Linked DNA regions of Homo sapiens. The protein of the gene in region 2 interacts with the protein of the main gene of each other region in a pairwise test. Each region holds a gene or a part of one and is shown on either strand. Other genes may lie near its edges.

The links. The genes of interacting proteins can lie anywhere in the genome.
Region 1: the proteins of BEGAIN (region 2) and TCHP interact in binary tests that used the Homo sapiens proteins (3 or more experiments, as listed by UniProt).
Region 3: the proteins of BEGAIN (region 2) and FAM161A interact in binary tests that used the Homo sapiens proteins (3 or more experiments, as listed by UniProt).
Region 4: the proteins of BEGAIN (region 2) and RASAL3 interact in binary tests that used the Homo sapiens proteins (3 or more experiments, as listed by UniProt).

The regions. Positions count from the first base shown.
Region 1 is NC_000012.12:109,910,274-109,913,773, forward strand, and holds part of TCHP (trichoplein keratin filament-binding protein), read left to right. Parts: intron 1-789; coding exon 790-962; intron 963-2,717; coding exon 2,718-2,799; intron 2,800-3,500. UniProt on the Homo sapiens protein: Tumor suppressor which has the ability to inhibit cell growth and be pro-apoptotic during cell stress. Inhibits cell growth in bladder and prostate cancer cells by a down-regulation of HSPB1 by inhibiting its phosphorylation.
Region 2 is NC_000014.9:100,536,647-100,539,532, reverse strand, and holds the end of BEGAIN (brain-enriched guanylate kinase-associated protein), read left to right. Parts: exon of another isoform or gene 1-217; coding exon 218-1,564; 3' UTR 1,565-2,386; downstream 2,387-2,886. UniProt on the Homo sapiens protein: May sustain the structure of the postsynaptic density (PSD).
Region 3 is NC_000002.12:61,837,061-61,840,560, forward strand, and holds part of FAM161A (protein FAM161A), read right to left. Parts: coding exon 2,361-3,500; intron 1,646-2,360; coding exon 1,478-1,645; exon of another isoform or gene 885-1,477; intron 1-884. UniProt on the Homo sapiens protein: Involved in ciliogenesis.
Region 4 is NC_000019.10:15,458,045-15,461,544, forward strand, and holds part of RASAL3 (RAS protein activator like-3), read right to left. Parts: coding exon 3,427-3,500; intron 3,253-3,426; coding exon 3,174-3,252; intron 3,078-3,173; coding exon 3,016-3,077; intron 2,215-3,015; coding exon 2,159-2,214; intron 612-2,158; coding exon 485-611; intron 383-484; coding exon 284-382; intron 1-283. UniProt on the Homo sapiens protein: Functions as a Ras GTPase-activating protein. Plays an important role in the expansion and functions of natural killer T (NKT) cells in the liver by negatively regulating RAS activity and the down-stream ERK signaling pathway.

The sequences.
Region 1 (3,500 bases), on a different chromosome or scaffold from region 2:
ACTGCGGTCAGGGCAGGACATGGGGCACAGTGGCATGGTTGGTCCTGGTGTGCAGCTGTTTTTTATGGGGTCTTGCTCTGTTGTCCAGGCTGGATTGCAATGGCGCAATCACGGCTCACTGCAGCCTCAACCTGCCAGGCTCAAGCCATCCTCCCACCTCAGCCTCTCGAGTAGCTGGGACCATAGGTGTACATCACAATGCTTTGTAGAGATGGGGTCTTGCTACATTGCCCAGGCTGGTCTTGAACTCCTAGGCCCAAGTGATCCTCCCACCTCAGCCTCCCAAAGTGCTGGGATTGCATGCATTAGCCCCAGTGCCCAGCCTCCTGCATTATTTTAATGCTTCCATTATGTTGATGTACATAGTAGCTAATTCCCCACCAAGGAGCATTTTGGTTGTTTCTGGTTTTTCCCTCTTACCTAAAAGCTGCAACGAGTGTTTTGCACTTTTGTGTCACTGTGGTCTTTGTTCTTATAAGTGGGATTTTTGCCAAGTTGTATTCCAAAAAGTTGTGCAACCAGGTGTATCCGAGGGCATGTGGTGGTGGCTGGGTCTCCCTTTAGCCAGAGAGAAGCTCCTAGGCCTGTGCAGTGTCTGAACCACCCCTCGTGATTATCCCCAGTCTGTTCCAGAAATAATCCAGGATCTTCCCATCTCTGTCTTGAGAACACTGTGTAGAATCACGAATGTCTATGTAGAAAGGAAAGGGAGGGCAGGCCCCTCTGTAGGCTCTCATTGCAGAAGGACTCTGTCCAGCCCAGCCACGTGCCGCCCTCTGCTTCCTCTAGGAGGCAGACAGGCGGATCCTGCAGGCCCTCCTCGAGAAGGAGGACGAGAGCCAGCGCCTCCACCTGGCCAGGCGGGAGCAGGTCATGGCCGATGTGGCCTGGATGAAGCAGGCCATTGAGGAGCAGCTGCAGCTGGAGCGGGCGCGGGAGGCAGAGCTGCAGATGCTGCTGAGGTGAGTGGCAGCTGCTGACTGGGCTGGATGCTCCTGGCCTCAACTCTGATACCTTGAAATGCCCCATGGGTCACCTGTTACTGAAATATCTATTGGCTGGGCGTGGAGGCTCACACCTGTAATCCTAGCACTTTGAGAGGCCGAGGCAGGTGGATCGCTTGAGCCTAGGAATTTGAGATCAGCCTGGGCAACATGGCAAAACTCCAGGCTCTACCAAAAATACACAAATTGGCCAGGCGTGGTTGTTCATACCTGTAGTTCCAACTACTCGGGAGGCTAAGTGGGAGGATCACTTGAGCCCAGGAGGTTGGGGCTCCGATTAGCCATGACTACACCACTGCACTCCAGCCTGGGTGACAGAACGAGACTCTGTCTCAAAAAAAAAAAAAAAAAAAAAAGAAGAAGAAGAGATAGCTGTGTATGTTGTCCATCATTCCTGAGGAGCACATCTTCATAATGGACCTGGCCTCTGGGGGTGTTTCCCTTGTATTATCTGAGGTGGAAATCATTAAGGTTTAGAGTAACGATGTGTTCATCTGAAATCTTAGAGGTTTAGAAGGAAATTATTTTTTTTTTTTTGAGATAGAGTCTTGCTCTGTCACCCAGGCTGGAGTGCAGTGGCATGATCTCGGCTGACTGCAATCTCTGCCTCCTGGGTTCAAGTAATTCTCTGCCTCAGCCTCCCGAGTAGCTGGGATTACAGGCGCCCGCCACCACACCCGGCTACTTTTTGTATTTTTAGTAGAGATGGGGTTTCACCATCTTGGCCAGGCTGGTCTTGAACTCCTGACCTTGTGATCCGCCAGCGTTGGCCTCCCAAAGTGCTGGGATTACAGGCGTGAGCCACTATGCCCAGCCAGAAGGAAGTTATTATAGAGATGTTGAATGCTGCTTACATCTATAAAACTGAGTTTGGGTCCTAAAGACTAAACTAGTAGATTGAAATCATCAAATAATAAGTAGCATACATTGAGCACTTACTGCATGCTGGACACTGTGCCGGGTGCTTTACAGGCCTCATCTTACTGAGTCCTGACATCCAGCCAAGTGGTGGCTTGTGAGACCCGGAGACTTGAAGAGGTCACTCCGTCCAGGGTGAGCTATCAGTGACACAGGCATGCGGTGGCAGGGTTCAGGCACAGGCAGCGCCCTCCTCTCCATGTTCTGATGGTTTCATTCATCTCTGTGTTAAACAGCCACGGTGTAAGTCATCCCAATTCCTTTTTATAAGGAGATGGGGTATTAAAAGGGTAACTTAAAATACTTCCAACAGGGCCAGGCACGGTGGCTCACGCTTGTAATCCCAGCACTTTGGGAGGCCAAAGCAGGTAGATCACTTGAGATCAGGAGTTCAAGACCAGCCTGACCAACATGGTGAAACCCTGTCTCTACTAAAAATACAGTAATTGGCCAGACATGGTGGCACATGCCTGTAATCCCAGCTACTCAGGAGACTGAGGTACTAGAATCGATTGAACCTGGGAGGTGGAGGTTGCAGTGAGCCGAGATCGCACCACTGCACTCTAGCCTGGGCAACAGAGCGAGACCCATCTCAAAAATAAAAAAAATGAAAAACTTCCAACAGTACTTTCCGTGGATGCTGTCCTTAATTGTAATCTTTTCAAAGTGCATGTGGATGTTTATCTGCAGTGTGGTCCTGCAGAAGCCATGTGCCCTGCAGCCCTGTCTGTTCCGTAGCTCGCTTCCTGCCAGGGCGGGGAGGAGCCTGCTGTCATCCCTTTTGTGTTTGCCCAGGGAGGAGGCCAAGGAGATGTGGGAAAAGAGAGAGGCAGAGTGGGCCCGAGAGCGCAGCGCACGGGACAGACTGATGAGCGAGGTAATCCCAGCTGCGGCGATGTGGACCGGCTGTTGGGTCTTGGGCAGGTGTCTGGAAGTCCATGGTCAGTCACCCTGCCAGATGCTCTGGGAACAGAGTCTTCTCTGGTCATTTTAAGTGGGCTTTAAAAATCATTGAAAAAGTAATATGAGCTTAGTAGAAAAGAATTCAGAAGTACAGGAAGTAGAAATGGAAAAAAGTCCCCCAGAGCCCATCCTGTATGCAGCCGTAGCTGCTGCTTCTGTCTGCTCTTCTGTTTCTATGCCTGACATTTTTTCTACATGTATTTCTTACTGTCTTGTGCTATTTGGCTTCAAGCGTTGTGACATGCTGTTACATCTTTATAAACGGCATGTCAGGGGCTGTATCACGGACTGTCCTCTGTCACCCGCTGCCTTTCCATTCCCTCTTATGGGTGTGCTGTGTTGTTCTAATTGGAAGCCATTCTGAGAAACGCTGCAGAGAGCCTCTTGGTGCCTGAGGCTCTTCCCACACGTTTCCCCCCTCGGGGTAGATGACAGCCGTGACCTGGAGGACATAACTGCTTTCCTGGTCAGTGTGTACACTGTGCGTGGAAGATATACCCCAACCGCAGAGAAATCTGGGAGGAGAAGAGAGAGTGTTACCCATGGGCTGAAAGCTGTTGTAAAGTGGTTTCAAATGAGAAACTCTACGTTGTGTCTGGTAGTATGCTGTATTTT
Region 2 (2,886 bases):
CCAGGCAGTCACAGCACCCACACCCCTGGGAGCTTGTTCAGTACAGCGTCCTGGATCCAGGCTCCCCCTGGTGTGATTTGAGAAGCCGGGAGGCCCCCGTTCGTCTGTCTGCCTGTCGGTCATGGCTAACATCAGTCCTCAGCTTCAGGGCCAGGGCTGGGCTGCCATGCTAACAGTGACCCTGTACCCGCCGTCCCCCTCCTCGCACCCGTTCCAGCTGCCCTCGGATTTCCAGGAGCGCGTGAGCCTGCACATGGAGAAGCACGGCTGCAGCCTGCCATCCCCGCTCTGCCACCCGGCCTACGCCGACAGCGTCCCCACCTGCGTCATTGCCAAGGTGCTGGAGAAGCCGGACCCCGCCAGCCTGTCCTCCCGCCTGTCCGATGCCTCCGCCCGCGACCTGGCCTTCTGCGACGGGGTGGAGAAACCAGGCCCGCGGCCCCCCTACAAGGGAGACATCTACTGCAGTGACACAGCCCTCTACTGCCCGGAGGAGCGGCGGCGAGACCGGCGGCCTAGCGTGGACGCGCCCGTGACCGACGTGGGCTTCCTGCGGGCCCAGAACTCCACTGACAGCGCGGCCGAGGAGGAGGAGGAGGCCGAGGCGGCGGCCTTCCCGGCGGGCTTCCAGCATGAGGCCTTCCCCAGCTACGCAGGCTCACTGCCCACGTCCAGCTCCTACTCCAGCTTCAGCGCCACGTCGGAGGAGAAGGAGCACGCGCAGGCCAGCACGCTGACCGCGTCGCAGCAGGCCATCTACCTGAACAGCCGCGACGAGCTCTTCGACCGCAAGCCACCCGCCACCACCTACGAGGGCAGCCCTCGCTTTGCCAAGGCCACGGCCGCGGTGGCGGCCCCGCTGGAGGCCGAAGTGGCCCCAGGCTTCGGGCGGACCATGTCACCGTACCCGGCCGAGACCTTCCGCTTCCCGGCCTCTCCGGGTCCCCAGCAGGCCCTGATGCCCCCAAACCTGTGGAGCCTGCGGGCCAAGCCGGGGACCGCCCGGCTCCCCGGGGAGGACATGAGGGGCCAGTGGCGTCCCCTGAGCGTGGAGGACATCGGCGCCTACTCCTACCCCGTGAGCGCTGCCGGCCGCGCCTCACCCTGCAGCTTCTCTGAACGCTACTACGGCGGGGCCGGGGGCAGCCCGGGCAAGAAGGCCGACGGCCGCGCCAGCCCGCTCTACGCCAGCTACAAGGCCGACAGCTTCTCCGAGGGGGACGACCTCTCCCAGGGCCACCTGGCAGAGCCCTGCTTCCTGCGGGCGGGCGGCGACCTGAGCCTCAGTCCCGGCCGCTCGGCTGACCCACTGCCCGGCTATGCACCCAGCGAGGGGGGGGACGGGGACAGGCTCGGGGTGCAGCTGTGTGGGACCGCCAGCAGCCCTGAGCCCGAGCAGGGTTCCAGGGACTCCTTGGAGCCGAGCTCCATGGAGGCCTCCCCGGAAATGCATCCTGCCGCCCGCCTCAGCCCCCAGCAGGCCTTTCCGCGGACTGGTGGCTCGGGGCTGAGCCGCAAGGACAGCCTCACCAAGGCCCAGCTCTACGGAACCTTGCTCAACTGAGCGCCTGCGTGCAGGCCTGGCCGTGGTTCGCTCCCCGCCAGCCCACGTGCCCCAGAAGGGCCGGCCTCACCTCTCCCCAGCCCCCGCTGTTCCCCTGCCCCGGCCAACAACGAGGAGTCTGTTCCTCCCCGCACCTCCTCTCCTCCCCAGCCCTGTAGGCCTGAGGGGAGGGTCCCCCACACCACGGTGTCCACCCGGCCCCGGCCCGTGGAACTCCACTTAGAGCGTTTTTCACGCGTCCTTCCCCCATGTGAGAGGAGCATCCCCCCTTTTATAAAGCGAAACTATTTTTATAGAGAAAAAGGGTCTTTCTTAACGCACTTGGCCTCCAGCTCCCTGGACGGCTGCCTTGGCGTTTTCAACACAAAGCTCCTTTATTTTTTGGGCGAGGGTGCGTGGGGCCTGCCCCTTGGAAGGGAAGGGAAGGACGGTGTCCTGTGGAGACCAGACTCTGCAAGTGGGGAGACCACCCCCGCAAGCCAGTGACAAGGGAGCCCTGAAGTTGTGTCCACGAAGAGGGAGCTGAAACAAATTCGGGGCTATGAAGTGTTTTAAAAATCCATTCTTCGCAGTGTGGCCACCACACCGCCCTGAGCCCTCCCACGGCCCATCGTCCCGGGTGGGCCGGGATGATGCCCCAGTGCGGCCGGTGCTCATCTCCGCCCCCGGGTCCGCCCCCTGACACCGTCTTACTCTACCTCAGACATGAGGAGGCCCTCCATTCCTGGTTTCTGTAGCTTGCATTCTTGTTGTCTCTGATGCATGCCCTGCCAGTTAGTACTGTATTTTGCATTCATTAATAAAAGACACCGGTGGAAAGAATCTGGGTTGGGCTGTTTCTCCTCCTCCTGCCTTTTGGTCTCGGGAACCTGGGGTCCCTGGTGTCCCTCCCCAGCCTTGCTCTCTGCAGCCGAGTTGGGCCCCTTAACCCCACTTCACACCCCATCCCCATAACACCCCGTCCCCACCCCGCCATCCAAGTTCCTATCTAGGGTGTGGATTCTCCTGCTTCTCCCAACCCACTGGAGACAACAGCTCTTTCATCCCATTCTCCTGCGCGCTGCCCCACCGATTTCCTGGCCCCTAATCCTCGTGTCTCAGACTTGGCTTCTGCTCCTTGAGATGTACTGGGGCCACGGATGGAATGTCGGCAGGTGGCCTTTTCCCGGGCACACGGGATGCTGCCGCTCTGCTCTGTCTTCCTGTTGGTATTGGGAACTGGCTGTCAGTCCCGGAGCCGCTCCATTGGTTAGAAAAAAAAAATTGCTTTCTTTTCCCCGGCTCTTTAAGATTTTCTCTTTGACTTTGGCTTTCTGCAGTTT
Region 3 (3,500 bases), on a different chromosome or scaffold from region 2:
TCTCATTATGTTTACCAGGCTGGTCTCAAACTCCTGGGCTCAAGCAATCTTCCTGCCTTGTACTCCTGAGGTGTTGGGATTACAGATGTGAGCCATGGCATCCAGCCTTTGCTGTTATTTTTTTCCCCTAAATAAGATCTCCTACAGGTTAGTGGCAAAGTTAATTCAATGGGAGCAAGTCAAAGGAGAAGTAAAGAGCATGGGAATACAACATAAAGAGAAACAGGAACCAAAATATATAAATTTACCGTAAGTGTTCTCACTGTTTGAGCAAGATCCTATAATAAATTAAACTACACTATTTTCTCTATGTAAGATATAATTGCTACCAAGATAAATAAGATTAATGGATTGGGGAAAATAATTATACTTTTAAATGATAATTAGGCTTAATTATACACAAGTTGGTGTTATGAAAAAGCTATTGTCCAGGCACGGTGGCTCACGCCTGTAATCCCAGCACTTTGGGAGGCCAAGGTAGGCAGATCACCTGAGGTCAGGAGTTTGAGACCAGCTTGGCCAACATGGCAAAACCTCATCTCTACCAAAAATACAAAAATTAGCTAGGCGTGGTGGTGAGCACCTGTAATCCCAGCTACTCTGTAAGCTGAGGCAGGAGAATCGCTTGAACTCGGGATCCAGCCTAGGTGACAGAGCGAGACTCTGTCTCAAAAAAATAAATAAATAAAAAATAAAAAGCTATTAATAGTTTACTTCCTAAGGGTAAGTAATCTATTTCTAAGAAACATTATGCTCACGTTCATCAAATTAAGCTCCCTTTATCAATGGATTAAAGCTAAATTATAAAAGAATACTCATTGTAATTAAAAGCACATATGCATATTTAGAAATCAGATTAAAAAGTAATAAATCACATTACTTACCTGGCTTTGAGGGAGATAGTTTCCTACTTAAACATCAACATTTTTATGTGCAACATCTGGAACACTGGTTTTCAAACTTTGTACTGCAAAATTCTAGTGAAGGGGTTCTAAGAATTCCGTGAATATTTTTATATTGAAACTAACAAAATGCAACACATACTACTAAACATTAACATATGTGCTAATGAACACATCACATAACCGATGTTTAACGTGTTAATTTGTGCTATCAGATTTCATCCAAACCTTAGAACAAAGCTCTTTGATATATCTGTTTACTGCAATCAAAAATAATATAAAGAACAAGATCAGATATTGGTATAAGATTATAACCATTAACTAAGGCCACAATAGAAAATGTCTGTATTCATCAACATAGCTTCATGGTTCTCACCATAAAGGTGAGTTTATATGTTGGTTCTCACCATGAGGTGAGTGTGTGTGCACTGAACACAAGTAACTGATGACAATTTAAATCCATAAGCTAAAACACTAATGCTATTTTCAATCTGCTCATATTTTACTATCTACTGATTAAAAAAAAAAGAGTTTGAAAACCAGTGGTCTGGAGATTCAAGATTTTTTCATGATACCTGAGACATTTTACTCTGGATTTAGATATTTGAGCTAAACTTTGATGTGAGTCATAAGCCTTAGCCCGGGTTGTCAGGAGTTTCTGCAATTCTTTCATTCTTTGCTTCTGTTTAGTTAGGATCCGATTTCTCTCTTCTTCCAACATTTTCTTTTCCTCAAGTGATCTCCTGAGGGTAACAAACTAAGGCTTAATCCACTTTAAGCCAATCAGAATGTTGTTTAGCAAAGATTTAACATGGGATAATTTGAATTTTGATAATTCAAAATTTGAAAAAAGGTAACCTTTTGAAAAGGATCTGACCTGTAAAACTAGAAATATTTATTTATTTATTTATTTATTTATTTATTTATTTATTTTTTTTGAGATGGAGTCTCGCTCTGTCGCCCAGGCTGGAGTGCCATGGCGTGATCTCGGCTCACTGCAACCTCTGCCTCCTGGATTCAAGCGATTCTCCTGCCTCAGCCTCCTGAGTAGCTGGGATTACAGGCACCCGCCACCACGCCCAGCTAATTTTTTGTATTTTTAGTAGAGATGGGGGTTTCATTATCTCGGCCAGGGTGGTCTTGAACTCCTGACCTTGTGATCCACCTGCCTCGACCTCCCAAAGCACTGGGATTACAGGTGTAAGCCACTGTGCCCAGCCAGGTAAAACTAGAAATCTTAAGACTATTATTTTCTAATCCCCCAAAATTTATAAATGAAAAATATATTCATTTCTTAGAATACCCTCTGACAAAATATCATATATTATATAGTAAAATATCTTATAGATACAATAATAATTTCTAAGTATTTTCAAATTTACCAACATAAACTCCACAGAGCTGCATACACTCATCTGGCAACCATGAGTCAGTCAGTACTGCGTCCTACTTACTTACCTTACGGCTTGTTCTCGTCCTCTGGAAGATACCGTGGGCACGGGAGGGTTGCAGTTACAAGGCACAGGGTTTACACCTGCACATCTTACTGGTGACTTACGCCTTGGAGACAAATAAGGCCAACGTGTTTCTTTTAAATTTTCTTCATCTGCTTCGATGTCTGCCAAAATTTTTTCTCTTTTAATAGATGCATGTGGAGATGCATGAAGATCAAATGGTTTACACACTGTTAAGAGTTTTGGAGACTTGTGTTCTGAGAGGTGTTTCTGGTATCTCTCAGGAAGGTCCTCAAAATCAGGAGTTGGGCACCTAACCTTGTGTTTACACTTCAACTTTACAGCCTGTTCAGGACACCTGGGGTTCCTGCATCCACAAGCTGACCTACAAGGCAGAGGAGATGAGTTCTGTAAATGCTCCTGGGCTCTCAGCTGTGTCCTAAGGTTTCGATAGAGCTCTTCTTCTTTTAACTTGTCATTGGTAGTTGAACCATAAGTAGATCGAGGAATGGGTCTGGCTTTAAATCGATTTGTTTTCTTTTTATACTTAAGAAAGTCTCTCAGCTGCTTTTCCCGGGCTGCTCGCTTCTGTTCCTCCCTTGCTATAAATTTAAATGGCTTTTGTGAGGCCAAAAGAGCTTCTTTGCTTTTCTCCTTCAGAGACCTTCTCCGTTCTTCTTTTTGCTTGACTAAATCATGGTAAAGGGGGAGAAAGACAGATGCAGGAACTGGATTGGCTCGGAATTTCTTCTTATACTCTGGATCCTCTTCTTGTTTTTTGAGCGCTTTATGTACCATTTCGATATCTGATTTAGATTTCATGGACTCTTCTTTTTTCTTCTGTTCTCTTATCATCATTTGAAAAGGCTCCGGTACTGTAATTGTGGGCACCCATTCTTTTCGTTTCTTCCTTCTTTTTTCAGCTGCATGGAAGCCAGTATCTTTACAGCGAATATAATCCTCAACACAAAAGTCTGTCCACATATTGTTGATGAGCTCCTTAGCATAGGTCATCATTCTGTTTTTCCTAGGATACTCTTTTTCTAGGTTGGGTAACTCCTCTTCAGAGGAGGACACATACAAGGAGGAAGACTGGCCTAAATCAGGCTCTGAAAATGATGTCATTAATGAGACAGGGTGATAG
Region 4 (3,500 bases), on a different chromosome or scaffold from region 2:
CTCCAGGGCATACAAGAGTAGTACTGGAGTAAAGACTTCGCGATTGCCTGGCAGGCAGGGCTTTGGGTGCATATGGGGCCGGGAGTGGACAGAAGGGGCGGGTCTGATATTCCCGGGGCTGGTAATAGATGGAAGGGGAGTCTTGGAGCCGTTGCAACGATGCAGGCGGGGCAGGTGTGTTGGGGGCGCGGGTTATGGAGCGAGCTGGCTTTGGGTAGAGTGGAAGGGGCGGGCCAGGCCTGTGGGCGGGGTCTCCGTGTCCCGCTTTTCTGAGGGCAATGACCTGGGTGGGCTGGAATTGGCGACGAAGGTCCTCGATCCAGCGGTCTCTCTCAGCGGCCGAGCGACAAGAGAAGCAGCGGCTTCCACCCGTCCAGGTTACCTGTTGGGATGGAGAATCCAACGGTGTGATCGAGGCCAAGGGTGAAGCCAAAGGGTGGGAGGTGGGACTGAGGTGGAATCGAGGTGGACTGTCTACACTTACCTGAAAGCAGTGGGGCTCCCCCAGGAGGCTGGGGTGCAGTGGCCAGATCCGCACATCCCGCTCGGCACCCAGGTCCAGTTCAGAGAGTGTGGCCAGCGACTCCCTAGAGCCCAGAGCACTGGGGGGTCTGGGAAGGGGGTGGGTGAGCACACCGTCATTCCTGCCTCTTCCCCATCCCCCATAGCCTGAAGGGTAGAGGAAGGCCAGGAAGGACTTCAACCCAATTCGGATCCCGTTTCTCCCCCGTGCCCCCCCCACCCCCCGCCATGGCACCTCCTTGCTTTTAGGATAAACTCAACTCCTGGTGACCTACATGACCAAGCTGGGTCCAGATGTTGTCACCTCATCTCCCTCCACCTAATCCATCACTTTCTGAGCTCCAGCCTCCCTGGCCTTGTTTTATTTTATCCTATTTATTTATTTATTTATTTATTTGAGACAGAGTCTTGTTTAGTGCGGTGGCTGGATCTCAGCTCACTGCAACCTCTGCCTTCCAGGTTCAAGTGATTTTCCTTCCTCAGCCTCCCAAGTAGCTGGGATCACAGGTGCCCACCACCATGCCTGGCTAATTTTCTAATTTTTATATTTTTAGTAGAGGTGGGGTTTCACCATGTTGGCCAGGCTGGTCTTGAACTCCTGATCCCAAGTGATCCACCCGCCTCAGCCTCACCAAAGTGTGGGATTACAGGTGTGAGCCACCGTGCCCAGCCCTATTTATTTATTTATTTATTTATTGAGATGGAGTCTTGCCCTTTTGCCCAGGCAGGAGTGCAGTGGCACAATCTTGGCTCACTGCAATGTCCACCTCCCAGGTTTAAGCGATTCTTCTGCCTCAGCCTCCTGAGTAACTGGGATTACAGGCATTCGCCACCATGCCTGGCTAATTTTGTATTTTAAGTAGAGATGGGATTTCACCACGTTGGCCAGGCTGGTCTTGAACTCCTGACCTCAAATGTTCCACCTGCCTCTGCCTCCCAAACTGTGGGATTACAGGTGTGAGCCACCGCACCCAGCCCTATTTATTTTTGAGACACAATCTTGCTCTGTTGCCCAGGCTGGAGTGCAGTGGCATGATCTCTGTGCACTGCAGCCTCAACTTCCCAGGCTCAAGCAATCCTCCCACTCAGCCTCCCCAGTAGGTGGGACTACAGGTGCCCGCCACCATGCCTAGCTAATTTTTGTATTTTTTGTAGAAATGGGGTCTCACTATGTTGCCCAGGCTGGTCTCGAACTCCTAGACTCAAGCAGTCTGCCCACTTTGGCCTCCCAAAGTGCTGGGAGCCACTTCACCCAGCCCTCTTGGCCTTGTTTTAGTTGCTTCTTTCGGCCTCTTGGCCTTTGCACTTGTTGTTCCTTCTGCCTGGAATGCTTTTTCCACCCCCCTGTTGGCCTAGTTAACTTCCATCCACCCTTCAGATCTCAGCTCAAGGGTACCTTCCCTAACCCTCCCAGACCAGTTGATTGACTTAGCTCCCATTTTAGAGTTATTGTGTCAGACTTTGCCCCCACCCTGGCTCTGTGCTAGATCATTCAATGTCCCCAGCATCAACTGATGTGGGGCAGAACACAGAGGCCACAGGGGGTGTTTGGTGTAGATTGGAATGATATGCAGGAGGTGGAGGAGGAGGGGCCAGTGTTGAACCCCAGCCCCTCCAGCCTCTCATACACCCTTACCCATCCCGGGGCTCCAACCTGGCCTTTTTCTTCTCTTTCAGCCTCTTGAGCAACCCCTGTGGGGAAGGGAATGTCAGCTGGACAGAAATCTGTGCTCCTTCCTCAGCTCCTTCCCTCCCAAGACATCCCAGAGGATCTACTGGTCTTGGAGGACCAACACCAAGCTCAGGCTGTATTAGCAGGAATAATAAGAGCAATCAGCAGCTCCTAATTCTTTGTTCATTTGTTTTTTTAAGACAGGGTCTCGTGCTGTCGCCCAGGCTGGAGTACAGTGGTGCGATCATGGCTCACTGCAGCCTCAAATTTCTGGGCTCAAGTGATCCTCTTGCCTCAGCTGGGACTACAGGTGAATGTTACCATGTAGAATTGGGGACTTGCTATGTTGCCCAGGCTGGTCTTGAACTCCTGGTCTCAAGCAATCCTTCTGCTTCAGCCTCCCAAAATGTTGGGATTACAGGTGTGAACCACTGTGCCTGGCCCAAACTCCCATTTGTAAAGCATCAATCATATATTCTCCTATACTATTCATTTATTTATTTAAGAGATGAAGTCTCCCCATGTTGCTTAGGCTGGTGTTGAACTCCTGGCCTCAAGCAGTGCTCTCTGCTCAGCCTCCCGAGTAGCTTGGACTATAGCTGCGCACTGCCCTGCCTGGCTCCTGCACTCTCTATTGGCTTCCCATAAACAACCCCTAGAGAAAGGTTATTTCATTAGCTTCATTTGACAGACTGGGACTCTGAGGCCCAAAGAGGGTCAGCAACCTGCTCCAGATCACCCAGCAAGAGTGCCCTTTCAGCTTTGAGGGTCCGAGAGTCTTGGCTCTCCCCTCTACCTCCCACCTTCACTGGCTGCCTTACCCGAACGTTGTGGACCTGGTTGGGACCAGCAGTCTCCGGTTCTGTTTTTCCAGGCATCCGATCTGTGGGTCGTTATGGGTGGCAGGTTGGGGGGTTGGATTCTGCCCCACTTTTAGAGCCTCCCAAATGCCCCAGGCCTTTCCACCCCTCAAGCTTACCTGGATCCCTGAAGTTCCCCATGGCCACGTGGATGCTGCCCTCGGAGCTAGCACTTCCCACCCGGGGCCTTCGAGGACCCTGTTCTCCCGCAGGAGTGGGTAGTCAGAGAGGGGAGGCAGGCAGGCAGGCAGGCAGGCAGACCGAGGGAGAGGCAGACACCTTCCCATTATCCTCCCTCCAGCCCCTGCCTCTGTTCTGCCCTCCTCCTTTTTCTTTCTTCCCTCCTCCCCTTTCCCAGGTGCCCCCTCTCACCTCCTCCTCTCCTCCAAGCAGCACCAGCTTCCCATCAAGCAGGGTGAAGCCCCCAATGTCCCAGACAGGCACGT